Regions from separate parts of the Homo sapiens genome. Here regions 1, 3, 4 and 5 are each linked to region 2. The links come from fine-mapping of genetic effects on gene expression. A gene starts in region 2. Each other region holds a variant in brackets. All regions are shown on one strand. Distances are from middle to middle. Region 1 overlaps VPS41 (VPS41 subunit of HOPS complex). Region 2 holds the start of VPS41 (VPS41 subunit of HOPS complex). Region 3 overlaps VPS41 (VPS41 subunit of HOPS complex). Region 4 overlaps VPS41 (VPS41 subunit of HOPS complex). Region 5 has its middle 77 kb from the start of AMPH.

Region 1 (6,564 bases), 53 kb after region 2:
GATGCATTCTGAGAAATGTGGCGTTAGGCAATTTTGTCATTGTGCAGACATCATAGCCTCTACTTACACAGACCTAGGTGGTACAGCCTACTGTACACTTAGGCTGTATGGTATAGCCTGTTGCTTCTAGACTACAAACCTGTACAGCATATTATTGTCCTGAATACCATAGGCAATTGGAACACAATGGCAAGTATTTGTGCATTTAAACATACCTAAATATAGAAATGATACCATAAAAATATGGTATAAAAGATGACAAATGATACATCTGTACAGGAGACTTATCATGAATGGAACTTACAGGACTGGAAGTTGTTCTGGGTGGGTCAGTGAATGAGCAGTGAGTGAATGTGAAGGCTTAGGACAGTAGTGTACACTACTGTAGACATTATAAACCCTGTACACTTAGGCTAAACTCAATTTATTTAAACATTTTCTTTCTCCACTAATACATTAGCCTTAGCTTACTGTAACTTTTTTACTTTATAAACTTTTTAATTTTAAAACTTTTGACTTTATAATAGCACACCTTAAAGCAAGCACATTGTACAGATGTACAAAATATTTCTTTATGTATTTATTCTATAAGCTCTTTTCTGTTTAGTTTTTTTTTTCTTTTTTACTTCTAAAACTTTTTGTTAAAAATGAAGATACAAACACACACATTAGCCTAGGCCTACCCAGGGCCAGGATCATCAATATCACTGTCTTCCACCTCCACATTTTGTCCTGCTGGAAGGCCTTCAGGGGTAGTAACGCACATGGAGCTGTCATCTCCTGTGATAACAATGCCTTCTTCTTGATACCTCCAGAAGGACCTGCCTGAGGCTGTTTTATGGGTAACTTCTTTTTTTATAAGTAGGAGGAATATATTCTAAATACCAATAAGAAATATAGTATAGTAAATACATAAGCCAGCAACATAGTCATTTATTGTCATTATCACGTATTATGTAGTACATAATTGTGTGTGCTAGACTTTATATGAGTGGCAGCTGACTAGGTTTGTTTACACTAGCATCATCACAGACACGTGAGTAACATGTTGTGCTGTGCTGTTACTAGGCTGCAGTGACACAGAGTGTTAGGAATTTTCCAGCTCCATTATAATCTTTTTTTATTTAAATGTTTAGGAAAAGATAGCTTGTAAAGCATTACAGTCTTATAGGACCACTGTAGTCTATGGTGTAAACCAAAAATAAAGTTCTAAGCTCCTCAGTCTACTGAATGGACTCCTCTTAGGATTCGTGAAAAACTAGTTCAGGCCATGACGGGAAGGGGGAGTCAGACATGCCTCATTATATTCTCTTCTTTTTGGAATTCAGGCACAACTGACCGGCATTAACATTAAGATACAGATCTTAAGACTGACAAAACAGACTCTTTGTAGTGTGAAAGGAAATAAGATACCAGATTCCAAACTGACTCTAATATAGCATCACATGACAGATAGCAAGCCCTGAAAGAAGTCAAAGTATTTTGCCCTAATATATATTTCTTTGGCATATTTTGAAATAGCTGTGCAAAGCTGTCTCTTTTGGGGAAAATTTACATTCTGTAGAGAATCCCCTTCCCTTTCCAGGTCTTTTTCTGATCCTGAAGAGAGTAGCTTAAAGGTCTGAATAGGAAACGTTTGCCGTATATTACCTCTAAGGGTGCCACCTATAAGACTTCTTCTACATAGTAAGAACCTTGGTCTTCACAACTCCTTATCGTAACCCAGGTACTCCTTTCTGCTGATTCTTTCTGCTGATAACTTAACTCTTTCAACCAGTTGCCAGTCAGAACATCTTTGAATCTACCTATGACCTGTAAACCATCCCTCTTTCCTCTCATCTCCTCTTTGAGTTGTCCCACCTTTCTGGACCAAACCAATATATACCTCACATGTATTGATTGATGTCTTATGTCACCCTAAAACATAAAATCAAGCTGTAACCCAACCACCTTGGGCACATGTTCTGAGGACCCCTTGAGGCTTTGTCATGGGTCATGGTCCTTACATTTGGCTCAGAATAAATCTCTTCGAGTATTTTACAATTTGGCTTTTTAGTCAACAGTGGGTATATGTGGTCTCTTGTTGACCAAAATGTTGTTATGTAGTGCATGACTGTAGTTACTTTTTCTTTAATAGCCTCCAATTTATTTAAGCATTTTAATTTAAAACTTGTTAATTAAGGGTACTTATGTTGAAGCAGTGATCAAATTATTGTGCCATGTCTCTGTTAAATATTTAGGAGCATTATGCCATGTGTTTTAAATATTTATTCCTTTAAGTGTGCTAGTGAGAGAGCAAACAACTTGCTGATCAAACATAAATTTCTACTGTTCACCTTTATGTGTTTTTCTTTCTTTGCTAGAAATAGAAAATGATGAGGTTTTGCTGTAAGGCACTATAGTAAGAGACATTATATAAATATTTATAAAATGGATGATTACAAAAAAAGGAGATTAAAACAAAACAGGAGCTTAGTGGCCATTTTGTGTTAAGATAAATATCAAATTTTTGAAATTAAACTCTTGAGGCAGAGGTGGGTTGATGATTCTCCTTGTCAGGTAGCAGAATCTATTGGTATTTCTATTCCTGTTTTTGATTTGAGATTAAACTAATGGACTGTATTCCTTAGTTGCTGATACCTTTCGTGTTCATGTGCTGATAAAAACCCAGACCTCTGTCCATCTAACCATTGTGTCTCTGAGAACATTTCACAGTTCTTTGTTACTTCCCACATCAAGTCCTAACTATCTAGCTAAGCATTCCAGACCCTGATCATTTGGTGAAACCCACCTTTCTAATCTTAGTTTTAATTTCTTCCCTCTCTAGTAATTTTTATCTGCTCACTACCTTCTAAATATTGCCATGGGCTTGCCTGTTTCTAAGCTTTTGATGACTTCTTTTCTCTCTAGAATACACTTCTGTGAATCTCCATTCTTTCTGCAAGGTACTTCCCCTGGATTGTAGCCCTGAGGTGTTTCCTTCCTGTAAACTCCTATATTACTACTATTTCACTTGTAGTGTGGCCCCTCATAGTGTCAGTACCAGCCTCACATTCCTATTTAACGTCTTGGAGGATAGTTGCCATGTCTCCTGGTATACTTCTCTCCTCTTCCCCACCCTTTCTCTTTTCTCTGCTGCCGTTTGGTATCCAGTAAGTATATATTGGCTGATAATATTGTTTTGAAACATAACCATGGAACTGGTGATTTTCTGTTACTACCTTTCAGGAGGCCTCTGGGAGCTGGTTCTCTGTTCTCCTGTGTATTATTCTACCTTCACTTGTCCATTGGATGTATAATTAGAAATTTTATACTGAGAGCTACTGTAGACTGAATTCTTCCCCACCTCCTAATTCATATGTTGAGGTCCTAACCCTCAATGTGATGGTATTTAGAATTGGGGACTTGGGGGGTAATTAAATTTAGATGAGGGCCAGGCATGGTGTAAACTCAGGAGGCTACGACAGGAGGGTCACTTGAGCCCAGGAGTTCTAGGCTGCAGTGAGTTATAATTGCACCACTGCACTCTCTAGCCTGGTTGACAGAGCAAGACTGTGTCTCTTAAAAACAAAAACAAGTTAAAAACAATTTAGATGAGGTCATGAGGGTGGAGTCCTCAAGATGAGATTAGTGCCAACATAAGAAGAGACAGGAGAGACCTTCCCTTCCTCCCCCTTCCTGCCGGCCATATAAGGACACAGCGGGAAGGCTGTCTGCAAACCAGGAAGAGAACCCTCACCAGAATGTGACCATACTGGCAGATTGAGGACCTCCAGTCTCCAA[A/T]ACTAGGAGAATTTCTGTTGTTTAAGCCACTCTATGATATTTTGTTATGGCAGTTCAAGCTGACTAATATAAGATCAGAGTCTTAAATCTTACTTTTGGAAAGTAACCCTTATGTTCAGCAGTATTTAAGTTTTTAATATATACTCATACATTTTCTAGTTGCTATGGGTAATGTATAAAGTCATCAAAGTTTAGAAGCTAAAGAGACTTTAAAAGATCATTCCAGATGCAAACGGTATCAGGGAAGGAAGTGTGTAAATTGGGCTTGAGCTGTTCTGGTTATGTATTCCATGCCCACTACTCTTCCACCCTTATCTCCTTGTACATTCAAGACCTCCCTTATGTAGCGAAACATTCTTATTAGGGCACTTCCCTAACCTGAGTTTCAAAACATGTTTTTGTGACTGGTTCCTCATCTGTGAGTGATGATGGTTTCATTTTTCTCCCTGGACTTTGGGACTCGACCATCTTTTGGACTGTATTGCTGACCTTTTGTTGCTTTCTTTGGCTGCGAAGAATTTATTTCTAATATAAATCAGCTCCTCTTTTCTCTTTGCTTTGGATTGATGTATGAGTGTCTGGAGGATCACCCATCTCTTTTTTCATGTTTCAGCAAAAGAAATGATCATTTTCCTTCTCTCCTCTCTCTTTGACAGTATCATCGTGAAGATTCAGTGTTCCTTTAAGCTGCTTAAATTTCATTTTTAGTATTCACAAACACCTTTTTTTTTTTTTTTTTTTTTTGAGAGGGAGTCTCACTCTGTCAGCAGGCTGGAGTGCAGTGGCGCAATCTCAGCTCACTGCAACCTCCGCCGCCCAGGTTCAAGTGATTCTCCTGTTTCAGCCTTCCCAAGTAGCTGGGACTACAGGCATGTGCCACTATGCCCAGCTAGTTTTCATATTTTTAGTAGAGACAGGGTTTCATCATGTTGGCTAGGATGGTCTCGATCTCTTGACCTCATGATCCGCCCACCTCGGCCTGCCAAAGTGCTGGGATTACAGGTGTGAGCCACCACGCCTGGCCCACTTTTTTTTTTTATCCTTTACATGGCTTAACCATCTCCTTCTTTGTGTTACCTCCACTTTGCTTTTTTTTTTTTTCTCCACTTCTTGAACGTACGGTACTTTTGTCACAATTATATGCCTCAATGTCATTTTCCACATAGAATGCTAATTTCCTGAGGACAGTTTGTGTAATTTATCTCTGCATCATCAGTGCTCAACATAAAAGCTGGTGAACTGATAGAAATAAGAAATTGATAGAAGTTCGCTGAACTAATCCATAGTTCCAAATCTGCAGTTTCACATATTTAGACTATTTTCCAGATAATCAAGGTTTTTTTCATACCTTCCTCTCCCATATCAGGATTATTGTGTGTACATTATAGGAAATTGTATGGCCATGACCATCTCTTTGACAGTTAATACAGATGCCATACATTCATTATTCACCTAAACAGCCTAACTCTTTTGGGCTTATTCATAATGTGGCCAGTGTGATGTTGGGTGACTGTTCATTGAAAGAATCTTTGGAGCAGATCTATAAACTTAAGCTATGTATCCTTGAACAAAGAACCCTGCTCTACTCTTGGTCTAATGGTACTCACTTATCGACCTGAAGCAAATACCATCTGTAGTATGCTGTTCTAGATGTGGCATCATTAATTGGCAAGCAGGGCATGTATCTTTTTGATATGATCAAAGTGGTTCATTGTTGGCTCAAGTGTGCCAGTGCCTGTAATACTTGTTTAAGACTGATTGACAGGTCTCAGATTCTTGTGTGTTTAAAGAACTTGTTTTCTATATTTGAACCCCGTATTTTGAGTGATAAGAGATGTGTCAAAGGAATTGAAAATTACTTAAATGGAAATCATTCTAACTTCTGATAAATGATGCCAAGGCAAGTCATATTTCCAGTTGTCTGCATTAAAAAATAATCTCAAGTTTGTGGGTTAAGTATTTATAGATAACTTGATAATTTTGATGGCTTCTACGCACCAAAGTGGCTAAGAAAACATGGTCAGAATTAAGGATGCTTCTCTCTTTTAGAGTAAAGTGTCATACTTACTGAATGTTTTAACATCTGACCCTTCAGTGGTAACTACATTTAGGCAAATATCCCTTAAATAGCTAAAACTGAAAATATTCCTTCACTGAATGAAATTACCCTGGTATTTCACATATTTCAAAGTCAGGGTTGAAGTAATTTTAACTTTGTGGAACATGACTCTGAATTGGGTAGTAGACTGGGGCTTAGTTGTCTGAAGCCTTTGGATTTCATTCTTCAGTACAGGGTACTCTCAGTTCTGGTGGTTCTTTCTTTGGGGTTCAAGGCCATTATTGCAAAGTAAGAGCTTTAAAAGGATTATGAATAAGGTGTAGACCTAGGGGAGGAATCTCCACCTTTGCAGTTGGGAGACAGGGAACCTGTAGAAAGTGAAATTTGAGGTGAATCTGGAAAGGTGAATGTGTATTTTCCAGGTTGTTAGAGTGGAGTTAAGACAGTGATACTTTTTTTTTTTTTTTTTTTTTTTGAGAAGGAGTCTCGCTCTGTCGCCCAGGCTGGAGTGCAGTGGCGCAATCTCAGCTCACTGCAAGCTCCGCCTCCCAGGTTGATGCCGTTCTCCTGCCTCAGCCTCCCAAGTAGCTGGGACTACAGGTGCCAGCCACCATGCCCAGCTAATTTTTTGTATTTTTAGTAGAGATGGGGTTTCACTGTGTTAGCCAGGATGGTCTTGATCTCCTGATCTTGTGATCCGCCCACCTCGGCTTCCCAAAGTG
Region 2 (5,000 bases):
TAGTTGGAGAATACAAGACCACCTAGATAAGAGAGCCTCAAACTCTCACTTCACATGAGCAAATGGGATTTGGAGGTCACATGTGAATTTCATCCTGTCCACTGTCCCAGCACGAACCTGCTAGTTCATAGTAGGTTTCTTCCTCTAATTCACCTTTCCATACCTGTGTCTCTTCACTTTTCCAGTCTCTCCAAAAGGAAAGAGGCTCATAATACTTTATTGTAATCAAGAGAGTATACTGAATGCGGAACAAACTTGGGGAATTGAGAGTTTCTACGGTTAAATGAGCAGAGGAAAACCTATAAAGTCTGGCTATATCTTTAATAAGACCCATAACACCCTTCTTGAGAAAGAGAATAAACATTCTCATTCCAGAAAAGTAGAAAGGCCAGGAAGGCCCAGAGTGGATGGCCTTCAGCTTTGCTTGCTTGGGCTGCTTGACTTCTCACCAAAATAAAATGGAACCATAAAACAAAAATGACCTTGTGGTTAAGACAGTGGTAATAATCCCTTATTTTCCTTCTTCATCCCAATCTCATCCATTCAGCATAGAAGAGGAGATTGCCCAGTTGGAGAGGCTGTAGTCCTAGAGGTTTATGGGTGGCTGTCACTCATAACAGAAAAGAGAAAATTGGAGTTTGTGAGGAAAGTCAGAAAAGTGGAAGAGCTCATTTTATTTCTCTTTCCCGTGGATACTCGACTGAGGGCTTCCACAGTCTCTTTGGTCTGTATTAAAGTTTTTCTGGGATCTGGAGTTCATCATGAGCAATGTTTGGCCCTGGGCTGCTTTGCAAGAGATTTTAGAAACTCTTGGGTTAGGTTTATACTTGCCCTAGGTTTATACTTAGGGCATTGGGTGCTTGCTTATGGATTTCTTTTTTCTTTTTTCTTTTTTTTCAGATAGGGTCTCACTCTGTTGCCCAGGCTGGAGTGCAGTGGCACCATCAATGCTCACTGCAGCCTTAACCCCCACCTCAGCCTCCTGAGTAGCTGGAACTACAGGCGCACACCATTATGCCCGGCTAATTTTTGGTATTTTTTGTAGAGACAGGGTTTTGCCATGTTGTCCAGGATGGTCTCAAACTCTTGAGCTCATGAAATCTGACTGCCTTGGCCTCCCAAAGTGCTGGGATTACAGGTGAAAGCCACTGCACCTGGCTGCTTATAGACATTTAAATGCCTCAGGGTGGTCTATCCTGTCGGCTGAGTGATTAGCCCACTGGAAGAGGAACCCCAGCAAGGCTTGGAGGAAGAAGATGGAGGTAAGGCTGTTTAGGCCCTGGGGAGAAGACAGGTGTCTCAGAGATGATGTCACCTTGGCTTCTGGGCCATTGAGGAATCATGGGTTGAGCAAGCTACAGACAGAGTACTGAGTCCATGACTTCCTACTGGGTCAGAGTCAATGAGGCACAGGGAGTCAAAAAAGGTACTGAGGCAATCACCACATGCTGCCATTTGCAATGCCCTCTGCTGGTCACCAGCTACTCCAGTGAATGGAAATTGTAAAATGTCTGTCTTTGGACAAGGTGCTGCAGATTCCTGAGGGTTAAGAAACAGAATTCATAATGTTCAGAAACATGGAGAAGGAATCAGTCATTCTGAAGGCTGGAAGTAATACAGTGGTTGTGCAGATTTTGACCAAGGACAACTTCATATTGTGTCTTCACTTGAACATTTACCTATTGAATATCCTCAACAAAAGTTTAACAATTAATTTATTAAACAACAGAGATTTTTTTTAAATCAATGTTCATATGACAGGAGAAGACAAAGTAGCAAGCAAAAATAATGATATTATTTGTTGGCGTATAAATTTTCTCTGACTCTCCACTGCAAAGACTGCTTTATATTCACTGAATATACTTAAAAAAGAGAGAGAAAAAAGGACAAGAACACTTTTAGAGTAAGCAGCATTTGGCAATCACAGAGACTTTGGCATCAGGCAGGGCTGAATTCTATTACTAGTTCTGCCTCTTACTAGCTGCATGACCTCTGAGCTACGGTATTCTCCCCTATAAATGGGGATGATAGTAGGAATTGCTGTGAGGATTAAATGAGATAATTTATGCAAAGCTATAAACCCAGGGCATGACATAGTAAGTGCTTAATAAACACTAGAATAACTAGAGAAACAAGAACAACAATAAAATAAGCTATAGTATTAGCAATGGTTATGTTCACATCCTTCAAAGCAGAATTCCATTGAGTTTGGAGAATTGGCAGCAGAAATGAACCCTAGCAGGTCCGTCCCCTAGAAGAGATTTCCAGGCTCAGATGAAGCTAAAACTACATTTCCCAGAAGGCCCTGGGCCAAGTGTGTGGTTTCCTCTTATTTCCGGGTCTGTCAGGTGACTCTCCCGTGGCGCCATGGCGGAAGCAGAGGAGCAGGTAAAGGGTGCAGGTGGTAGTTGAGGGCACAGGGATATAGAGACTAGGGTGGGCTGTTTGGGGAGGGTGGAGTGGAGTGGGTGGAGGTGCGGAGCTGCTGGAATAGCGCAAGGCAGGTCCGCGGCAGGGCGGGGTGGGATGGCGAAAGTTGGTTTCGGGGAGCAGAGAGGATGCCAGCCCCGGGAGGGCACCTAGGGAAAGCGCTCTGACACACCCCCGCGTTCGGGCTGCCTTTCCTCGGGCCCCATCCCTGTGGCCTTTGCCCAGGGAAATTTTGGCATGAAGGCAGGCCCGGCTACCTCAGGGACTGACTGCCTGTGGGAGGAGGAAGAGAGGCCGGGTGACTGAAATTTAAGTTGCTTTCCACTTGAAGTAGGACAATAAGAACTAGGAGAGAGTAGACGATGAGTTTTGTTTTGTATCTATTGGAGTTAGGTACAGAGCTGGAGCACTGTTGCGGTGCAGCAGGGATTAAATGCATCCGTTCTGGAGCAAAAATGCCTGGGGTCCAAGTGCTGGTTCCTTTTCTTACCCAATGTGCTACTTTGAGCTACTTATTTAACTTTCCAGTGTGAGATGGGGGTAATAATAAGGCCGTCCTCAGAGGGTGGTTTAAGATGGAGAGAGGAGTTTATACACAAAGTTAGAGTACTTAGAACTGTTGGGCTTAGTAAAAATTAAATGGGATTATTTGTTGCTGGTAGTATCCAGTCAACAACTGGCAACGTGGCACTGAAGTTTAGGGTAGAAATTGGTGATGGGAATATGAATTATTTTCATATAGCAGTAGTGGTAATCACACATTTTATGAAATGACGAAGTAAAATAAAAAAGACAAAAAAGAGAAGCAGACCAAAAAAGAGGCTAGAACTTGGGGGAGATAACTTAAGTTTCCATTTCCAGTGTTATTTCAGTTGGATACTGTTTTTCTTCACAAGTTAACAGGGCTGTCAGTTGCAGTCATTGTCTCTAAACAGTGACTTGATGATGGGCTGTTTAGTATCATAAGAGTCATTTACCTAGTTCAATAATTTTTACTATTTTCAACATACTTCATTTGTTTTTACTTCATAGTGAAAATTTGTTCTGTATATATTTTATATATGCCAATAATTGAGACGTTTGACTAGGTAGAAATTTGGTTTGGCTGGTCCTTGTGATAACAAGATAACAAAGTCTCTTATCTAACACTAGAGACTCCTATTTCCATTCTAGCAGTTCAAAGGAAAACACTCATTAAGAACATATCATTTCATGACTGCCATTGCTCCTTTGAATAAGGGTGAGATTGTTTTTCACATTGTGCATCTTTATTTCATGTTGAAATGTTTGTTTTATGGTTTGATTTGAAAGCAAAAAACTGAGTTTCATATGTTCTTAGATATAGTGGAATAGAAATGGAGAGAGTTGCTCCTAGAAAAACCATTGTTTTTTCTTCCATTGAAAAAAACCTATGAAATATTTACCACTGTTTAGTGCAGAAGAAGAATTTAACAAAGTTGTCTGATATAAAAATGACACATACAAAATTAGGGATATAATAATGTTTCACATTTGTACATTATTTTCTAGTTTTAAAAACCCTTCCATATTGCATTTGGTCTTCCCAAAAGAATTCTATGAGGTAAATGTTTACTCTCATACATGGGTGAAACACCTCTGATATTCTAGACTTTCCAGGGGCTTCTAATCTTATTCAGAGGAAAAGCCACAGCCATTACGGTAGCCTGGTTGTCCCACAGGACCTTGACCCAGCTGCCCTTAGCCACCTTTTCTTGACCTCATTTTTCCCACTACTCTCCTTCCCTTCTGTGACTCTGCATCAGCTGTACTGGCTCTCTTAGTCTTCAAAAAGCCAGGCAGGTTCCTATCTCAGGGCCTCTTTGCTCATGCTGTTCCTTTTTGAGGAACCCTGATATTTACAGGCTTCCTCATTTCCTTCATGTCTTTGTCCAAGTGTTCTTTTTCATTGCGACCTTCCCTGACCATGCTTTGAAACCTTCCTGCATTATTTTTCCCTATAATGTGCATCACCGTTTGACATACTGTATTATAAAATTTGTTTTTTTTTTTTTCCCTGTATATTTCTGTGTACCTCTTACCACAGAGCTTGGAACATCCTGACAAGGATTTGTTCACTGCTGTATGTCCAATACCTAGAATATTGCTTGTTACTTAATAAATTTGTGTTAAATGATTGACTTTTACTGATAAACAAATTGAAATTCAGGCAACTTGAGTAACGTGCTCAGGCTTATATCTATAATATAATAAATCTCCAGTCCTCTGTCTCCATAGCTCATGACTTTTCACTAGAATACCCTACCTTTTTAAAATATATGTAAGAACCTAAATCTAAATAGTTTTTTTACTTTATGAAGTAGAATTAGCCCTTTCCATTTTAATGATTTTCCCTCAAGCCACCATTCCACTTTGATGCTTTAACAGCCAATATGTAGTTGGAGTGGGCATTCTCCTCTCCAGTGGTGTCAGTATCTTAAAAAGACTAGTCGTGGACCAGGCACAATGGCCCATACCTGTAATCCCAGCACTTTGGGAGGCCAAGGTGGGGCGATTGTTTGAGCCCAGGAGTTCGAGACGAGCCTGGGCAA
Region 3 (6,564 bases), 170 kb after region 2:
AATGGTGATTGACAGGCAAGACCATATAGGAATAGGTAAACCATATTTTTAATCAAAATAAAGGAAGATTTTCTCGGTATTAGCTAGGATTAGATTCAACTGTGAGTGATAAAAATCCCAAAATAATTGTGGCTTAACAGAGCAACAGTTTCTTTTTCTGTCACGTGGAAGTGTTGGTGGAGTGGCCCTGCTGAGAGCACCATGCCGCGGGGTCAGAGACCGGGGCTCCTTCCTCTTGTTCGTCCACCTTGGGTGACCTTGACCTCATGACGTAAGGTAGTGCCATCCAATAGTGGAGAGTCAGGGTAAGGGAAGCATTTCAGGCAAGGGGACGCAATGGAGAGGTGAGCAGAGGCAGGTGAAGCTGCACAGAAATTAAGGGCTAGGTTGTGGATGCCTTGTAAGTCGTGGTAGAGATTCTCAGCTTTAAGTCTGAGTGGAGCGATGCAATAGAAAGTTTTGTAGGCAGGGTATGAGATAAGGTTTCCCAGGTGCACTCATTCATCATACTGCACCCGGTTCAGATGCCACTTCCCCTTGAAGCTTCTCACAAGAGGACCACACAGTTTCAGTGTCCCTCCTCTGTACACATGGCCCTTTGTTCATGTTACTCTAATCGTGGAATAATGCGTTGTCACATCTCTGTCACTTCCTGGACCCTGAGCTCCCGGGGGTGGACTCATGCTGCTAATGCTCCTACTAAGCCTCCTCCATTATTCTCTTCTTTGTTTTCCTCTTACCTATAATCATCACTAACATTTTTATTATTGTCATCTTTGCATCTCTATCTAACCTGACCCTCTAGCACCCAGCACAGAGAATATAGTAAATGTATCCTGATTAATTTAGAATTAGTAAGTAATTTATCAATATATAGTAGGTCTTTTTTTTTTTTTTAAGACTAATGGAAATGCTCTCATCTGCATAGTTGCTCCTTTTTGGATCCTTCTTGATCATCAAAAGTGTTTTTTCCTTCTCACCTTTGACAGATCCTTGAGCAGAGTTCTCTTTCAGCCCCTGTGATCTGGCAGTACAAATATTCCTAGTAAATTCAATCATTCATTCGTTCATTCATGCAGCATGAATTCATATTTCCTGAGCTTATGGTATGCACAATACTAGGAAAAGTTCAACCATGAGCAACATTCCTTACATCTTAATGGAGGGAAACAGAGCTTAAACAAATGACTACAGATTTGGAAGGAAGCAGTGCTGTAAGGAAACCTGAAGTAGTGTAAAGAGAGAAAGCTTAGTGGGAAAGGCCCTTTCTTTTCATTTGGTGTCTTGTTTTCTACTCTTGCTCATGAAATGTTCTGAGTAGCTTCAAATATGTTTTAAATTGAATTGTGTAGAGTCCAGTACCTCTGAGAGGTAACTGAGTGCAGCTATTCTAGGGAGATGTGTTCTTTATTTGTTTGCTTTGTTTTATTTTTAAAGAAGCTGTGGAAAAATTCTTTCAAGTGTAAGTTTAAATGACTTTATTACTGTTTGTTCTTATTTGGTCGCCTATAGTAACATTTTTACCCTGCTTTAATTGAAGGCTCTTGAGATCTGTCAACAGAGAAACTTTGTAGAAGAGACAGTTTATCTTCTGAGTAAGTAGCTTTTATTCATTTTGGTCCCCATAAACTAAGAAATGGGATGACAACATGAAGTAAATTGTGTAAGAAAGGACATAGGTTTTAGACCAACGTAACACAGAATATGAGCCTATTTTTACAATAATTTAATATATGAAACAGACTTCACAGCACAGTAAAGAAGGAAGAGTTGTTTCATAAATGTTGAAATAACATATTGGCAATGTATAATCAACATATCAAAATTTATCAGTTTATACCTCACAACATAGATTAAGTTGTAGATGAGTTGACAAGTTTTTTCATTTTCTAAAAAATTATAATCAGCTTATATTACCATCATATTGGTAGAAAATAAATAATCACTTTTAGAAATCACACCCTAAATAACTAGAGGAAATGCAATTGAATACCATAGTTTTGGAGAAGGAGGAGAGCTTTTTAATATAATCTAGGTGTCAGTGTTCCTGGTCTTCTGGCTCCTACCTCCACATGAGTCACAATTTTTGTACCATGCATACCAAGAAACAAAACTTGTCATCTTTTCACATTCTTCCAAAATGAGCCACGTGCATGACAACAATGTGGGTTGTACTGAGGATTGCATAATGTAGCATATAACATAACATTCATATTTGGTGTTTCTCCATTGTCACTTCCCTGCTGACCTCAGTAGGGTTTTTCCGCTTTACGCCTTTCCCTTATACAGCACTCACTCTCATTGGCCTCTTTGCCTCTGTTGAAAAATAATCCAAATCCTCTATTCCCTTTTATGTGTATGCAGATTCATGGGTGCTCAGCCACAAACCCAGAACTGTCCAGTTATAGCACCTGCCCTTCTTAGGAGAAGTGCTTTTGGGGCTGCATTTTGTTACTTCAGCATGTTCCTGGGGTTCTAATCACAATTTTAGGTAGCTCATCAATTCACTAATTCCAAACAGTGTTCTCCCCAAGAAATATTTTGGTGGAATAAATTTTTGTCATATTGTCTTAGAAGCAGTAGAGGACTTATTAGGGACATATAGTCTGATTTTATAAAAACTTGATAATCCTGTAAACATTTTTAAATAACTAACCATTTTTAGAGACATAAACTGTGGAAATAATATTTGTAAGAAACACAAAATGCTGTGGAAGGGGTATCAAATGGGATATCATTTCATTCACAAGCCAGCTTTTATCAGTTGATAATGGCCGTGTGCAGGGGGAAGGATTCAAGATCCTTTACTAGTTCCTGCAAGCCCAGAGACAGGGGTAAGGGTGACAACCTACAACCAGGCAGTTGTTGTCCCTCCACTGAGTAAGGCTTTCTTACATGCACTATATTAAAAACTCATGGAAAACTTTAAACTATTAAAATGCCATAGGTCA[G/A]TGAGCAAAGTATGTAAAGACAATTAGCCAATAGAAGGCATGGTTGATAAATACTTTCATCTCATGAGGGTTATTGAAAGGCCTTCCCCTGAACGTGGGAGAGAAGAAAATGAGGAAGCCCTCTGATAGTTGAGTTTGCAGTTGGCACAAAGTGTATCAGAAAAGCAGTATGCACAGCTACCTCATGAGGCAGAATGACTTTAGGGCCTTTAAACATTTTAAGTGTATCTGCATGTGAAGGTATTGACCTCCAGAATATATATAAGTCTATCAAAAGTAAGTCAGAGTATGACAGACCTGGCTTCAAATTCACAGTGTACTATTTAGTAGCTGTATGATCTTAGCAAGCTACTAACATTTCTATTTCCTCTTCTATAAAAGAGGAATATTAGTAGAACATGCCTCATAGGGTTGTAGTGATGGTTATATGATGTCATTTATATGAGGCACTTAAATGAGTACTCAGTACAGAGTAAATATCCAGTAAATAGGAGATACTTATTTTGCTATGTTATAGACAGTAAATGTTGGTGTCACATGAGAAAATAGCCTTGTCTTAGCTTTCCACCTATGTAAACAAATTAAGAGATATGCAATTTCTTTAAAAAAATTATTAAAATACCTTAAATGAACTCTTTCTCCCATCTTCACCCCACCAAGGCCGAATGGGTAATAGCCGAAGTGCCCTGAAGATGATTATGGAGGAATTACATGATGTTGATAAAGCAATCGAATTTGCCAAGGAGCAAGATGATGGAGAGCTGTGGGAAGATTTGATTTTATATTCCATTGACAAACCACGTAAGCATAAAAGCCATCTCTGGTTATAACTTTTTTTTCTCTCAGTGTAACCAGTTATGTCTAGATTAAAAACTATTTCAAGATACATTGGGTTAAGAAAATGGTAGCGTACCTACAATAAAAATAGGCCAGGTGTGTTGTAATGATTTCCAATACTCCTCCTGTGCTGGAAAACCTGGAGCCTCATCACTTTGCATTACCTGCATGTGATGAAGAACAGGTGGCTACACAGTTTATTAATTGTGTCCCCATGAGGCATATTTTTACCTGCTGCAAGCAAATTGAATAAATGTCATCTGGGTTGTGTTGGTGTGGTTTTTTTTTGTTTTTAGCTTGTATATGGGAGTGTTTATAGTTTAAGTGTATAGACCTTACCAGTCTTTTTTGGAAACATGTAACTGTTCTGGACATTGATGATATTTGGATGTTTGTGTTGTAGTATTTAGCCTCTTTCCTGCACTATTTTTATCAGTACAACACCCAGAGTTTGTATTTGTTGGTCCTCAGCTTGACTGTTTGCATTGGGTCTCCCATTTTGGAAAGGAAAAAACAAAAGCAGTCACCTAACAGAAACCCAACTCTTTTGAAAATAACTAGCAGTAGTGATTTGAAATTTCCTCTTTCCTTTTTTTTTTTTTTAAGTTTGGTAGGAAGTCTTTGTGTTCATGTAACTACCTTAATCTGAAATTGACTTTAATAACTATCCTCTTGACAATATAAAGAATCTCACTTGTAACTAGCAAGATAAAGTAGTAGTTTAAGGATCTCAAGAGGCAAAGTGATGTGGCAGAACATATCATAAACTTGAGGCTGGCCTGAGTGAATTTGGGCACATTACTTATTAGCCGTGTGACCCTGGAAAAATTAAACACCCCATTTCCCTTGTCTGTAAAATGGGGACACAGCATTCCTACCTTGCACAGTATTTGAGGAAAGTGTATATGATACCTGAGCCATAGTCAGTTGTCAATAAATATTATTTACACCCATTTGATGCTAAAAACTGTATTTTGAAGGCAAGTAATCATTTGTTCAACTGTTTTAAAACAGTTCTTATTTACTTTCTCCTTCATGTCTTAAGGAGCGTTAGTTCTTGGAAGTTTAGAAGATTAATTCTTAAGAGTTTAGAAATTCAAATGGTTTTAACACTTACTTTGAAGGAAATAATTTTTTCTTTGAGTTACTTTTGATCTAAAATTGCATTATATGCAAATTATGTGCAAATAAAATTGCATTATAATGTTGCTTATATGTTCATTGTTTTATGTGGTATTTTGTAGCATTTATTACTGGCTTGTTAAACAACATTGGCACACATGTTGACCCAATTCTACTGATTCACCGTATTAAGGAAGGAATGGAGATCCCCAATTTGAGAGATTCCTTGGTTAAAATTCTGCAAGACTACAATTTGCAAGTAAGTATCCTTTCTTGGACAAATGAGCATCTGAATTAGTTGACTTAGTACTGGATAAATATTTCTAGGGTTTATGTTAGGTATCAGTTAAAAACTTTCGATTTTATGGTTACATTTTATTTAGGCCCAGATATTTAGAAAACTGTTCAAATAGAGTAATTAGAAACATCACCTTTAAAATTGCGTTGTCCAGTAATACCTTAAAGGCCTTAAGAAGGCTATTTGATTCTTTAGCCATCTCCAATTTTCACTTGTTTTTGAGCAGACATTCTTACATTTGTATGGTTAATATAACATGGAATCGAGGCGAGTATGAAAGCAGTTATAGTGGCCATTAGATCGGGCCACCCCAACATTTTTAGGGAGAATAAGTATTGTATCCGTTTGAGGGAATTAACAAAAATGTTTTTCAGTAAGGTAATAATTTTTCTTGAAGCCATTCAGTAGTCTGTTGCCTGAAAGCTGTTAAAATATAGGATTTTATTTAACCTTTTGTCTGTTTTCTAGAATAGTGCAACTTTATTATCCTTGTTAAATCAGAATTTGTCATAAGAACAGTGGAACTCATTATTTTCATATAAATTATTATACTAATTACAAAGCATCTTAATCTTTTCCTTAAAAAGACTCTAGCAATTACTATTTTTCAGGATGCTGGTAACTTCTATAGAACTTGAATTAAAACATTTCCTTAAAAATTCGGACTGTTGTTCTTCCTCTAATTTACTTGAAAATGAGGTTTTATTAATAATGGATGAAATTACTTTCCTAGAAACAATTTTTGCAGGTAAAGCCAAAAGAAAAGGCTATTAGCTGAGGAGCATTATGATGTGAGATCCATTGGGCCAGGATTCACCATGCAGGTTGCAAAGTAGAGGTCTGCCTGCACTCAGGGTGACAGCCTTAGGTAAGAGGCAGGGTGGAAAGGAGAAGATATTGCAGGAACATTGGTGGCATCAAAAACAGATGTAAGAGATGAAAGGGATGGCAGAGCTGCAGGGACAAGAGGTTGTGCCAGAGAGTGTGATGTCATTAATGTTTCTGAAGCGGAGTCATGGTGTATACGTGTTCAAAAAGTGGGATGATGGTAAAGGTCATTTGTGTAGAATTAGTAGAGAAACTGAGGCCACAGCCTTTCTGAGTCATCCTAATGGACATGAAGGCCAGGAGGAAGAAACAAGGTGCTCTAAGCCAGGCTCCAGCTTCTCCACAGGGGACAGTAGTATTAACTGGACAACACGACTTTAAAAGTGAAGAAGTCTAAAGATGGGGGTGGGGGTGTGAGAGATCATGCAGCCTTCACTCCGGAGAGCTTTGTGGGAAATTGGGTTCATGGGAGAGAAATTGGTATTCGTTAAGCCAAAGAAGTAGATTACCTGTTCCGCAAAAAGCTTA
Region 4 (6,564 bases), 180 kb after region 2:
CTAGGAAAATAATAAGTTGTAAAAGTTTACTCAAGCAAATAGAATAGACCTATAATCATTAACTAAATTACATTGGTAGTCAAAATGTATAGCTACAATAAAGGCACTTATTCCATAGACAGTTTTAGAGACAAGTTTTATCCTTTTAAAAAATAGCTGGCTGGATACGGTGGTTCATGCCTGTAATCTCGTCACTTTGGGAGGCTGAGGTGAACGGATGGCTTGAGCTCAGCAGTTTGAGATAAGCCTGAGCAACATGGTGAAAACCTGTCTGTACTAAAAATACATAAATTAGCTGGGCGTGATGGCTCATGCCTGTGGTCCCAGCTACATGGGAGGCTGAGGCAGGAGGATCACTTAAGTGCAGGAGGTCAAGGCTGCAGTGAGTTCTGATCATGCTACTGTACTTCAGCCTGGGTGGCAGAGCAAGACCTTGTCAAAAAAAATTAATTAAAAATAATAAAACTAAATAAAAAGCAGCTTCTGTGTTACATTTACTTTTCCAGATAATTGAATGGAAAAGTTCCTCAGTTCCTTATGGAATGCTAGTGTAACCCTAATACCAGCATTACGTGAGGGCAGTATGAGAAAATTATAGCCCTATCTTTTTTTTAAAAACACAAATGCAAAAATAATACATAAATCAATAGCAAATTGAACTTGACCATTTATTTAATTGTTAAAAGTACATCCATATCATAAATGTTATTAGTTCTCCCTAAAATAATCATCTGTATGTTCAATAAAATTTTAATCAAAATATCCAAAGAATTTTTCATGGAAATTAATAAACTGGTCCTAACTCTTAACATAAAAATTAAGAGTAAGATTATTATTCAAGAGGGAAGATATTTTTATTAGATATCCAACTTAATATGTGGGAGTATAAAATGCTATATAACCACTTTGGAAAACTGTTTGTCATTTACTTGAAAAATTAAACATACACCTACTCCATGACCCAGGAATTTCACTCCTAGGTATTTACTCAAGAGATGAAAATCAGTTCCATAAAAAGATCTGTACAAGAATGTCCTTTGGATTTCCTTAGTAGCCCTAAACTGGACATAACCTCAGCATGCATTAACAGGAGAGTGTACCTCAGGGTTGTTGCCTCTTGGTGACAAAGTAGATGCCGTATCACTAGGCTTTACATCCACACTTCATATGGCACATGCGGGAAGCAAGGGGTTTTTTCCTAATGAGGCTTTGCTTTTTGATTTGAAAGGGCTGCTTTCCCAGGCTTGATGTTTATCTTGTTGACCAGATCTATGTTACATGAGCCCCAGCCAGCTGTATATTTCAGCTGGACACACACTAAATGAAGTTGGAGTTGTGTTTGAAAAGAAGGAGCAGGAATGGTAGAGGGCAAGAAAGTGTCAGCTGTGTCTGTAATACTTTATTTTCTGGAATGAGATCTGAAGCACGTGGGAAAATATCAACAGATTTGTTAAATCTAGGTGGTAGGGACTGGGTCTTTTTTTGTTTTCAGTTTTTTTTTAATATTTCATATTTTAAAAAGAAAAATAGCACAAAATAATGAAAGATAGTGCTCAGATCAAGAGCAGCAGTGCTCAGTGCCATTCTGGTCATCGAAACCTGAGTAACAGAAGAGTGTGCATGTGCCCTAAGTATGTAAAGAACATCACATTTGCAAGTTAGAAGGGAGATGGGGAAGGTGATGATAGTCTGTGGTTGCGAAGATAGGCTGGGTAAGATGACCTTGAAACATAGCAGTCATCCAAAATCATGAGTGTGAAGGTCAAAAAGAGGTGAGGATGACCTGCTTACGCCAACTGCTGTGGCATCTGACTTTTGGCCATCAGTGTCTTTATAAAAAAGACACTCATGGGAAATTGCAAGTATGAATTTTTGAGGGTGAAATGAATGTGAACAACAGCACATTTTTCATGAGTCACTGATGGAGTTGCTACTAGGAATCCATAGTCAACATAATGCCTTGTCCTATGTCTGATGTTGAAAGCAATACCTGTAGATTGTAGTACATTATAATCTTGTACTGTCTTCCTTCACTTATCACCTTTAATTGCCTACACATTATTACAGATGTTATAGAATAAATGATTACATTCTATAGAGGATAGTCTCATATTTTGAAATACCTGCCTGGGATCATATAAATGAAACTTAAAATGTTTTCCTGTTTTTCTGATTGGGAGCCTTGAATTTTGACCAAATGAAGTAGGAGATAGCAGTAAGCTGTATTTGTGTACTTTCCCCTCTCCTGGCTGTTTGCCTCTGAATAATGAATTTTCCTAGAAAATGCTATCTGCAGGCGGACAGATTGTACCTGTTTAGAAAAATGTAATCCTGCTGAGGATATGGCTCCTTCCTGGTTTGCATATTTTGCTGTTTTCTTTTTTAGCTTGTAGACACAGTGGCCTCTGTCTAGACTGCTGGCCCTGCCTTTCTCTTATATAATTCATGCCATGGGCCTGGAGCACCCACGAGAGTCAGAGCCATTTTTTAAAATTGTTTTATCTGAGATGTTGTGGTTGAAACCATTACTCTTAAGTTTTTTATTTTTGTCTTGGAGGCTAAGCAGCTTTATATGTTTGCTTTTAAATTTATTTAAAGTTTCCTGACATCCATATTTCTTAGCTATCTTTCTTACTGTATTTGTTATTTTTCTCTTCTACCTGTATGTTTTAATGCAGTCTGTTAAAATTTTAATGTATTTTTTTAAAAATCCAAAAAAAATTGATTCCTGGTAGAATTTTAAAGAATAAAACTTCATAGGCAGTTTCTCAATTAATGTAGGAATACTAAAATCATGTAATTTCCTGTTCATCAATACTAGAAATGGCAGGCATAGAACTTTAATCTAGACATTAGTTTTGTTTTCCTGAATATTAATTTGTCTTTGTATAATTAGGGGAAAAAGGCTTTCGGCTGGATTCACCCAAAGCCAGTGCTCTTTGGGATTTTCAGAGGAACACGTGGACCACTGAGGATAGAGGGCTGCAGTTGGCTGCTCCCTTACTTTTCTTCCCCAGTGGCATGAATTTAAAACTTATGAAAGCAAAATGCCCATCTAGCTTGTCAAGTCGAGAGTGACTTCAGTATGAAGAAAGCCAAAGTGCCCCCTCTAAACAGTGGCACTTGCCCGTGAAAGACACATGCTTCTCAGCCTCAGAGCTGGGCTGTGGTGAGACAGCGCTGTCTGTTAATGTGAACTTCTATGATGTGACATGTGTAACTGCACATAACTGCGTATGATAAGACACATAGGGCCCAAAGGGAGAAGCCACAGGCACAGCCCCAGAGCGTCTCTGTCCTTCAGGCCTTGAGTTTCTCCCTCTGAAAAAGCAGCAACAAGTTCTGGTTAAAAAAAAATAATAATAATAAATGAAATGACATCTGGCTTATGCACACCTCCTGGAGCCTCTCAGTTTCCTACTAATACCTAAGAAAACCCAGCAAAGGGTGGGAGCTCACACTGTGCCCCACAGAATGGACATGAAAGGTAAAGTGTCGCCTGTCCCTGCTGTGTCCCCACCTAAAAGCAGGGGAGGATCTTGGACCCCATCGTGCCTCCAGTTCTGAAATACAACATTGGTACCAGCCAGAAATGGGCATCATCCTCCACTGTGTGCTTCTGACTTCTGAGGCTGCCAAAGCATTGTGATGTCTCTTGTCATTCTCCAGGCAGGAAGGGAGGAAATAGTAAAAAGCCTGCAGGGGAATAAGAAAAATGTGTAAAGAAACAAAAGCTATAATGCTGGGATGAAGAATAAAGAAAAGGACTCTTATGAGAGAATATTTGT[A/G]TTCATGGTCATTTTTCAAACCCCTCCCAGGAGTCACCAAATTTGAAGGTTATTATAGTCAGTTAATACCACACACACACACACACCACATTCATAGCACTATGCTGAATGGTTTGGATTAGATTTGGAAAGAAAAAGATAGGTTGCATCCTCAAGGGGATTTAAGACAGAGATTGTATCTGTTTAGTTTATTATCTATACCCAGTACCCTATACGTGATAGGGACCCAGTACTTATTTGTGCAGTAAATAGATTAATTTATGAAATAAATTGATGATTTTGGAATAGCAGGTTTTCATTCTGGGTAAAGATCTGAAGAATGGAATGAACACATGATGTAGGAGCCAAAGTCTGCCCAAGAGGATCTGTATAAGGAAGCCCTCTAAAGTAGCAATAGGGTTAGTTAATATAGGGCCTTCTTTGCCAGACTTTGGAATTTATGTTTGATTATACAAATGCTACAGGAGCCCGTGTATGGTTGGAAGAAATGATGAAATGACGCACAGAGTAATGAGTGGATCCTGGCTGGCCAGGTCAGCCTGGCAGTGGTTTGGCAGGAAGAGGGTACTGAGGGCAAGAGAATCAGTGAGTGCCCCTTTTGAGTATTTCAAGCATGCCAGCTTTTGGAATCCCCAGTACAGTGTCCCTTCACCCCTCAGATTTGAGTCTACTTAAGATGGCTTTTCTTTTAAAATGTATGCATTAGATTCTGCTTCGTGAAGGCTGCAAGAAGATTCTCGTAGCTGACTCTTTGTCCTTACTGAAGAAAATGCACCGAACTCAAATGAAAGGTGTTCTTGTTGATGGTGGGTAAAATTGAAATAATCATATGGAACCACGTGCCCTGCTTTCAGAAATGGCCAAGCAGGTATAAACAGGGCATAATCCAAAGTATGTGTGTTTTCTTACAGAGGAGAACATCTGTGAGTCGTGCCTTTCCCCTATTCTTCCATCAGGTAAGAAGGTTTTCCCCAAAAAAATCCCAAACATGTATTTTAATGATGAGTGGAATCAAAATTTTGGAATTAGCCAACTACCGTTTATAAAACTATATAACTTTCAGAATAACCCAGTGGAGAGAAGTGTTGTGGCTTCCATCCTGCTCAGTGGAATGCTGGTGCTGCCATTGCTTAGAGCTGAGGTTCTCAAGCTCTAGGGTGAGTCATCGTCACCTGGCAGGCTTATTGGAACCCAGATCGCTGACCCAGTCAGACTCCCTAGAGTCTCTGGTTCCAAACTTCCAGGGCAGGAACTGAGAATGTATATTTCTAACAAGTTCCCAGGTAATGTTGATGCCACTGGTTCAGGGGCCCTTCTTTTAGAACTGCTAGTCTAGGGTAAAAACAAAATGAAAACTAACCATCAGCATTTAAATTTCAAGGTAGAAGAACCATATACATGTCTGGGAAAAAAAATTTATAGGTAGCATTCCCTTTTCTTTAGTGTTTTTCTCTGATATATGGTTCTACATGCCCAAGTCATCTCACATTTCAGTGGAAACATACATAATCCCTGCCATCTAATTGGAACTGTGAGTCTTTAAAAGACATAAGCATTTGTTTATTTCTAGTTCTTGGCAGATAGATATATGTCTTCATCTGTAATGAAAAGCACCTTCTTAAGGTTTATTATGACAGAAGAAATTTGCATAATTCAAAAGCGGAAACTAACAAAGCATTGTTAGGATGCTAACAAATGCTTTTCAAATATAAGTTCAGCATAACAAAGTACTAAAAGACCTAGTTGACCTCATGTTTACTTAGGATTAAAGGATTATTTCATGGGGCAGTCCATGAGAAGTTGTTCTACTTAGGTTCTTTTCTAGAGGAATTAGATTTGGATGTTTAAGTGCTTCTGTTGAAAACTGCATGGGCTCAGGTGAAGAAGTGAGCTTCCATAGCATTTCAGACAGTGTTGCAGCAAAAAGGAACCACATACATTCCCACTCTACAGTTAGATTTAACTCCAAATTTACTCTGCTGATGACACTAAATCTTACCAAAAATAAGCTGGCCACACAGAGCAGGAACAGATGAGGGGATCTGCCCAAGCACAAGTGCAGTAAAATGCAAGGTCACCACAGCCTGGGCTTGTAACCCAGGTCCGCCTCTGAGTCAGTGTGTGGTCTTGGCAAAGGTAGCAGGTGGACTGGCAAAGCATTTTTATGAAGCCACAGACTCAACTTCAGCTGTGGTGTATAATGATTATAGGGGTTAGGGGCGCATTGGCACATACACTTGCTGGTTTTCCTACAGTTGTCCTCAATGTAGTCTGGGTAAGTGACACAGAGGCTAAGCAAGTAACCTGTGAATCGCATAGCAACATGATTATAATACCTGTTTTGTGTCTGATCATACCACCCCTCAGGAATGCTTTTGTAAATAAGCCATTCTCTAAAGGCACCTTATTGCTGAAAATTAAACTGCAACTCGACTTTCAGTCGGGATTGGTTTAAAATGATCTTGCTTGTTGCATTAAGTTCTCCTCCTTTCTCTGCCCTCCTCGCCAGATGCAGCTAAGCCCTTCAGCGTGGTGGTCTTCCATTGCCGGCACATGTTCCACAAGGAGTGCCTGCCCATGCCCAGCATGGTGAGTTGGCAGCTTGGCACCTATCAACTAGAGGGAAATTAACACACTTAGAGGAATGTGCTTTAAACTGTAACCCTTCATCCTTATGGCTGTATGGGTTAAAAAAAAATTACAATGTGGATTTATATCACATAACAAAAATTAATCTAGTTTTCAAATGTAAAAATATTTAGAAATGTTCTATGTA
Region 5 (6,564 bases), 200 kb after region 2:
TAGAGATGCCAGAGCAGGAGGAAGAGGGCATTGGGGGCAATGAGCAGGAAGGGAGGCTGAGTGAGGCACATCAGGAGTGCAGGAAGGTGACTCTGGGAGATGGAGGGGTTGTTCTCAGAGCAGAGTCCTGTTTCTCGCCTCCTAATCAGACGGCAATGCAAAAGCTTGGTCTATTGAGTAAGGAGACATTAACAGACCTTTGTAAGCAGCGGGAAGGTGAGGATTGTTGAAGAATTCTGCTGACACAGTCTGTTGGAATACAGTTGTCTTGACAACCAAGAATTAAAACCCTTCCAGTGGGCTCAAGTCCATTCACCCAGGAGCTTCCTGATGGTGCAAATCAATCTGTGAGTCTGTCCTTGAACACAGATTCTTTCAGTTTTTTTTTTCTTGTTCCTGCTTGAATTTCTAATGAAAAAGGATATGCCAATTTCTTAATAAAAATGTATCCAAATCTTTTTTATTCCCTGACCAGATATTTCTACACATTGCTAGACTAGTCCTTTCCAAGACATCAACTTTTAGTGTAGTTACTATGCCTATTTTGTGTGTATTTGCCACTTTGCAATCTTGTATGTAGTTGTGGCTTAAGCAAAACCCATCTTTAATTTTGTAAATGTTACAAAAATAAGTTAGCACAGTTGTAAGTCCAAAGGAATACAAAAGGATGAAGATATGATTTCCTGCCTTCCAGAATTTTAGAAATTCCTCTAAATATCTTGAGCAACTAGGATCAATTTTTAAAATGAAAAGAAGGGTCAAATAACCCAAGTAAGAAATCGGCAAAAGATAGGAAGAAGCGATTCACTGTACAGCAAAAACAAATGGCAAAACAAGAGATAGAAAAAGCTCAACCTCACTAATACTTAGGGAAAAGTAATAAAATCTGCCAGGCTGTTGGCAGGGGGACAGGGAACAGATACATTTCTATACTGTAGGTTGGAGGTGTAAATTGATCACAGTTTTTTTTTTTTTTGGAAGGTAACTTGACAACATTAATTAAAATTAAAAATATAGATAGCCTCATTCCAGTAATTCAACTTGTAACTATGTATCCTAGAGAAGTTCTCACACTTGTACACAAAAAGCATGACAGCCGGGCACAGTGGCTCACACCTGTAATCCCAGCACCTTGAGAGGCTGAGGCAGGTGGATCACTTGAACCCAGGAGTTCAAGACCAGCCTGGACAACACAGACCCTATCTCTACAAACATTAAAAAAAAAAAATAGCCAGGAATGGTGACATGCAACTGTAGTCCCAGCTACTCAGGAGGCTGAGATGGGAGGATCACTTGAGCCCAGGAGGTTGAGGCAGCAGTGAGACGTGATCGTGTCACTGCACTCCAGCCTGGGTGACGGAGCTAGACGCCATCTCAAAAAACAAAAACAAAAAACCATGACCAATGATATTGTAAATATCAGTCAGTAAGGCCCACATAAACTATGATTCATGCTATGAAATTCTAGCAAGTACTAAAATGGACCAAGACATTGTAAAGTGTAAGGAAGCAAGCTGGTTCCACTTATGGACAATAAAACAAAGCAATCATGTTCTTTAGGTATGTATACAATCAAGTAAATGCATAGGTATGTGTGTACAATGCATAGAAATAACAGCAGTAAGTTACCTGGAGTGGGGTGAGCATTGATGGAAGAACCGGGAAAGAGAGGTTTTCTTTGGCTTTATACTTTGTTTGTCTGTTTGTTTGTTTGTTTATAAGTCAGGGTCTCACTCTGTAGCCCAGGGTGATCGTGCAGTGGTACAATCGTGGTTCACTGCAACTTCAGCCTCCTGGGCTCAAGTGATCCTCCCACCTCAGCCTCTCAAGTAGCTGGGACTATAGGTGTGTGCAACCACACCTGGCTAATTTTTTAAGTTTTTGTAGAGACAAAGTCTCATCATGATGCCCATGCTGGTCTTGAACCTCTGGGCTCAACTAATACTTTTTTATAAGAATATATTTATACATTACTTGAATGACTAAAAAAATGTATAAGAAGTGTTAAAAGGATCATCAGCAGTTATAGTTTATAGTTGCAGTTATCAGTTTCCTTCTTTTAGTAAGGAGATTGTATCTCTTTGACTCTCTCCTTGGAAGCAAATATTCCTTACGGCTTTGTATCTTCTAATTTGTAGTTGTTCCCTCAGTGTTTTACTTGAGTAAGAAATGAAACTGTCTTGACAGTTCTTCTAACAACAGTTTAATTCCAAGTTCACCCTAACCTGGAAAGAACTCTGTGTTGAGTGTCACTGGTTGGTGTATTTCTTAATTACATCAAAGGAAGATATTCATATCAGCTACTATTTTGATGTCGTTAGGTATCACTGTGACTTTGTAGTCTTGCTTAGTAAGGTCAGAGTACACTTTTAGAATGAATCTTCTGAGGCATTTTTCTTAGAACCAACTCAAGCTGTGCATTTGCCATCTCATCAGGCTCGTGGGTGATGTACTTTTTTAAAGAAGGCGGCAAAACTTGGCTGGCTTTCTTTTGGAAGGCGTGATTTTATTTTCTCAATCTGTGCATCTTGTGACCAGTGTTAGGATGCTGGAAAAGTAGTTAGGATCAATGATTTTAAAAAATTGACTTTTAATTTTAAGCTAAATGAAAAGAGAAAGTAAAATCATGTTTCTGTAGTCTTTTAAAGAAGATAATCTGGAAAATTTCATCAGCCAGCCAAAATCATGATTTTAACAGTGATCTTATTTTCCTGAAAGAAATTTACTGAAGATCTATAAAAATGGTTAGATAAAAATAAAAGAGGGAGGAGAAAATGTCCATTCCAGAATCCTGATCACAGATATGGGTGTAGGATGAGAGAGCATTTTGCAATGATTTTGAGATTACTGACAGCAGGTCTTGGGTCTCAGCATATGGAACGATGTGGATGTGTCAAATGTCTTCTGTCTGTTCCAACTGTGGAAATTCTAAGCTGCTTTGTCCTTTTGCTGTGTTTCAGTCTTATGTACGTGTTACCACCAGCAGCAGCTGTTTAAATAAAACAGGCACACTGAAATACATACAAAATAGGAATGGTCTCCAGTGTTACACTTGTGATAACTTATGATCTGGGAAAGACTCAGATTCTCTCTGACTTCTTCAAGCCCTTCATGGATAAAGAAAATAGAAGAGAAAAGAATGACTTGTAAATGGCCTACTAGAATATATCCCACATGTTTTTCTTACAATATAACTGCCTTGACCACTGGAACATGGCAGAGGTGACCAAGGCTAGGTCATAAAAGCATC[A/G]TGCACTTCCATCTTGTTCTACCAGGATGCTCAAGCTCTAAGACAGCCCAGGTCCTGCATCCAAGGAGGCTCTGCATAGGTGGAGCAGATGACAGCCCCAGCAAAGACCCTAGCAGACAGCCAGCATCAACCACCACACATGAGAGTGACTCCCAAAATCACCAGCAGGGAGCCGGCAGGTCTGGGGTTCAAATCCAGGTGAGTCAGGAGCCTCATAGTAGCCTGTCCCATGGAAAAGCAGAAAAAATGAGTGCTGAGGGAACCTGGGGAACCCTCCACTCTTCTCCCTTTGTTCACCAGAAGAGGAAACTAAGGCCAGAGTGGGGAAGTGGCTCGCCCACCTTGCATAGCCAGAGCAGGACAGACCTGGACAAGACCCATGCTTGGCATTCCTGCTGTCACTCTGGGAAGACTCTATACTGGGAACAGAAGCAGCATCGTTAAATTCCTGCTCATCACTCAGGATCATCGTGGGCAAAACTATTTTTTAAGTGTACAATTCTGTCGCCTTGAGTTCATTTGCACTGTTGTGCAATTATCACCACCATCCATCTCGACCCCTTTCCTCATCCTAAATTGAGAAACTGTACTCATTAAACACTAACTCCCCATTCCCTCCTCTCTCCAGTCCCTGGCAACCACCATTCTACTTTCTGTGAATTTGATTACTCCAGGTATCTCATGTACGTGGAATCATACAATATTTGTCCTTTTGTGACTGGCTTACCATTCATTTATTGATGGTTGCTTCCATCTTTAGGCTGTTATAAATAATGCTGCTGTGAACATTAGTGTATAAATATCTGTTCAAGACTCTGCTTTAGATTCTTTTGGGTATATCCCAGAGCAGAATTACTGCATCCTATAGTAATTCTACTTTGAAATTTTTGAGGAATTGCCTGCACCATTTTACATTCTCACAGCAATGCATAAGTGTTCCAATTGCTCCACATCCTTGCCAACACTTGTTATTGTCTGAGGGTGTTTTTGGTTGTTTTTTGTTTTGTTTTATAAATAGCAATCCTAATGGGTATCATTTGGTATTTCACTGTGGTTTTGATTTGCATTTTCCTAATGAAAGACACTAAGTTTTTGGATGGTTGGTTACCTAGCCAATAGAAAACCTGAACATGAATTAATCACATTTCCCTTTAGCACTGCCTACGATAGACAGGCCTGTCTGTACAGAAATTGTTTATTTATTTATTTATTTAGAGACAGAGTCTCGCCCTGTCACCCAGGCTGGAGTGCAGTGCCACTGTCTTGGCTTACTGCAACCTCCGTCTCCCAGGCTAAAGTGATTCTTATGCCTCAGCCTCCCAAGTAGCTGGGATTACAGGCATACACCACCACTCCCAACTAATTTTTGTATTTTTAAAAGAGACAGGGTTTTGCCATGTTGGCCAGGCTGGTCTCAAACTCCTGGCCTCAAGTGATCCACCCGTCTCGGCCTCCCAAAGTGCTGGATTACAGGTGTGAGCCACCACACCCAGCCAGAAATCTTTTTTTTTTTTAGTCATTCTAGAACAATCTCCTCTGTCTCTCACTCTTCACATCCCTTAGGAGATACTACAGGCTCTTGTCTCTACTTTCAGAAGAACACCCCAATCCACCCCTCCTCTGTAACCCACTACTGCTGCTCTAGCTTAGTTCTTTGTGACTTTACACTTGGATTTAGTGTACCCATGAAGTAATTCTTTCTCAGGATTGACTGCAAAATTGGTTTTTGCAAATCTTGAGAAAAATCAGTGAAGAAATTGAGACAATGGAAAAAAGTATTATAATTCTGTGATGATTGAAGCTTAATAATCAACAAAGAGATCATTACTGTTTCAAGGGAATCCATTGACATTAAGAGCAGGAAACCCCTACAAGAGAGTCAAAGGTTAAGGTCAACATTTTGGGAAATGGGAATGGGAGTGTGGAGGAGGGACGTCATCCTCATCTAATCCAACAGTCTGGCTCGTAGCAGTTGCTGTGTTCCAAGAGTGTACTATGGTCCTATCTGCTGCAAGCAAGGATTCTTGCAAATCATAATAAATATTAAGAAATGTATACCTATGGTTCACTTTACATAAACCTTATGAGGGGGATTCCAAGAAATAATACATTATGAATGTAGAATAAGTCTTTAAATTGGCAATTTTGAAACTTGATTCTGTCTAGTAGTGTTAACCTTGCTAGGAGATCCAAATGTTAGGTTATTTGAATACTACTCACTTGTATTTCCTGATGTTTTCCAGTGTTTGAACATTTGCTGTAAGCTATAGTTGTTTATAAATACTTTAACAGAAGAAATGCGAAGAAAAGAAGCTATGAATATTGTTTTGGAATGCTTCATTGGGAAATTAGAAATGGATAAAAAATCTGAATTAGCAAAGCAATATAAATTATAAATTTCAATAACAAAACCAAAATCAGGGCAAGTAAACAAAATATTTTCATTGCAATGAAAAAAATCCTTTCGTTGGATTAAAAAAGATTAAACTTAAATGAAGCAGCAACTGCCCTAATATCCAACTTCAAGATGCTGTTTGGTGCAGTCTTAATTAACCAATGTCAATGTGAAATGAAAGAAATTTTTTCTACATTTGGAATGTTTGTCATGAAAAAAAAAACTGAGGCTATTAAGTAGGACAATTGGTGTTTGGTATATTTAACATTTCCATTTTAAGAATTAATAACTTTTAAATATTAAATATGGTATTTAAAAATTTTTTTTTGGTGGGGATACGGAGTCTTACTCTGTTGCTCAGGTTGGAGTGCAGTGGCATGATCTCGGCTCACTGCAATCTCCACCTCCCAGGTTCAAGCGATTCTCCTGCCTCAGCCTCCTGAGTAGCTGGGATTACAGGTGTGTGCCACCATGCCTGGCTAATTTTTGTATTTTTTTAGTAGAGACGGGTTTCACCGTGTTTGCCAGGGTGGTTTCAAACTCCTGACCTCAGGTAATCCAGCCGCCTCAGCCTCCCAAAGTACTGGGATTATGAGCCACTGTGCCCAGCCAGTATTTTAAAAATTTTAAGTGATTTTAACAGCGATTTGTTGCATGTTAATATTCTCAGCTTATAATGTTTTATTATCAGATAGAGAACATTTTTACATGTTATTGAAATATATAATCTTGTCACAATATATTGGTCCAATTTTTAAAGCTGTTTATTATTATATCTGTTTTTAGCAGAAAATTAAAATATTTAGTGTATAACCCATCCCAGAAAAAATAATTTACCTATATTATTATGCTTACTCATTATTATTCAAAAACAGGTAAATAAAATGTTTTGAAAATGACAGAATAGCTTGTGATTTGA

Evidence for each region. PIP is the estimated chance that this variant, and not a neighbour inherited with it, causes the effect.
Region 1: its variant is fine-mapped to the expression of VPS41 in whole blood (TOPMed, PIP 0.98).
Region 3: its variant is fine-mapped to the expression of VPS41 in whole blood (TOPMed, PIP above 0.99).
Region 4: its variant is fine-mapped to the expression of VPS41 in blood mononuclear cells (TOPMed, PIP 0.90).
Region 5: its variant is fine-mapped to the expression of VPS41 in whole blood (TOPMed, PIP above 0.99).

Annotation. Positions count from the first base shown.
Region 1 is chr7:38,853,172-38,859,735 of GRCh38, reverse strand. The region is part of intron 4 of VPS41 (VPS41 subunit of HOPS complex); the gene reads left to right. Among named protein-coding and RNA genes, the nearest start is that of VPS41, 53 kb to the left of the region's middle. The variant A/T (reference allele first, on the strand shown) is at 3,784.
Region 2 is chr7:38,906,542-38,911,541 of GRCh38, reverse strand. VPS41 (VPS41 subunit of HOPS complex) reads left to right here and starts at 2,351. Exons shown (of 29, transcript NM_014396.4): 1 at 2,351-2,388. The coding sequence starts at 2,368. RefSeq lists an enhancer at 2,244-2,343.
Region 3 is chr7:38,740,590-38,747,153 of GRCh38, reverse strand. It overlaps VPS41 (VPS41 subunit of HOPS complex), which reads left to right. Exons shown (of 29, transcript NM_014396.4): 23 at 1,541-1,595; 24 at 3,612-3,752; 25 at 5,033-5,169. Among named protein-coding and RNA genes, the nearest start is that of AMPH, 110 kb to the right of the region's middle. The variant G/A (reference allele first, on the strand shown) is at 2,952.
Region 4 is chr7:38,726,722-38,733,285 of GRCh38, reverse strand. VPS41 (VPS41 subunit of HOPS complex) reads left to right here. Exons shown (of 29, transcript NM_014396.4): 26 at 4,495-4,594; 27 at 4,700-4,744; 28 at 6,298-6,377. Among named protein-coding and RNA genes, the nearest start is that of AMPH, 99 kb to the right of the region's middle. The variant A/G (reference allele first, on the strand shown) is at 3,789.
Region 5 is chr7:38,705,083-38,711,646 of GRCh38, reverse strand. No RefSeq gene overlaps it. Among named protein-coding and RNA genes, the nearest start is that of AMPH, 77 kb to the right of the region's middle. The variant A/G (reference allele first, on the strand shown) is at 3,251.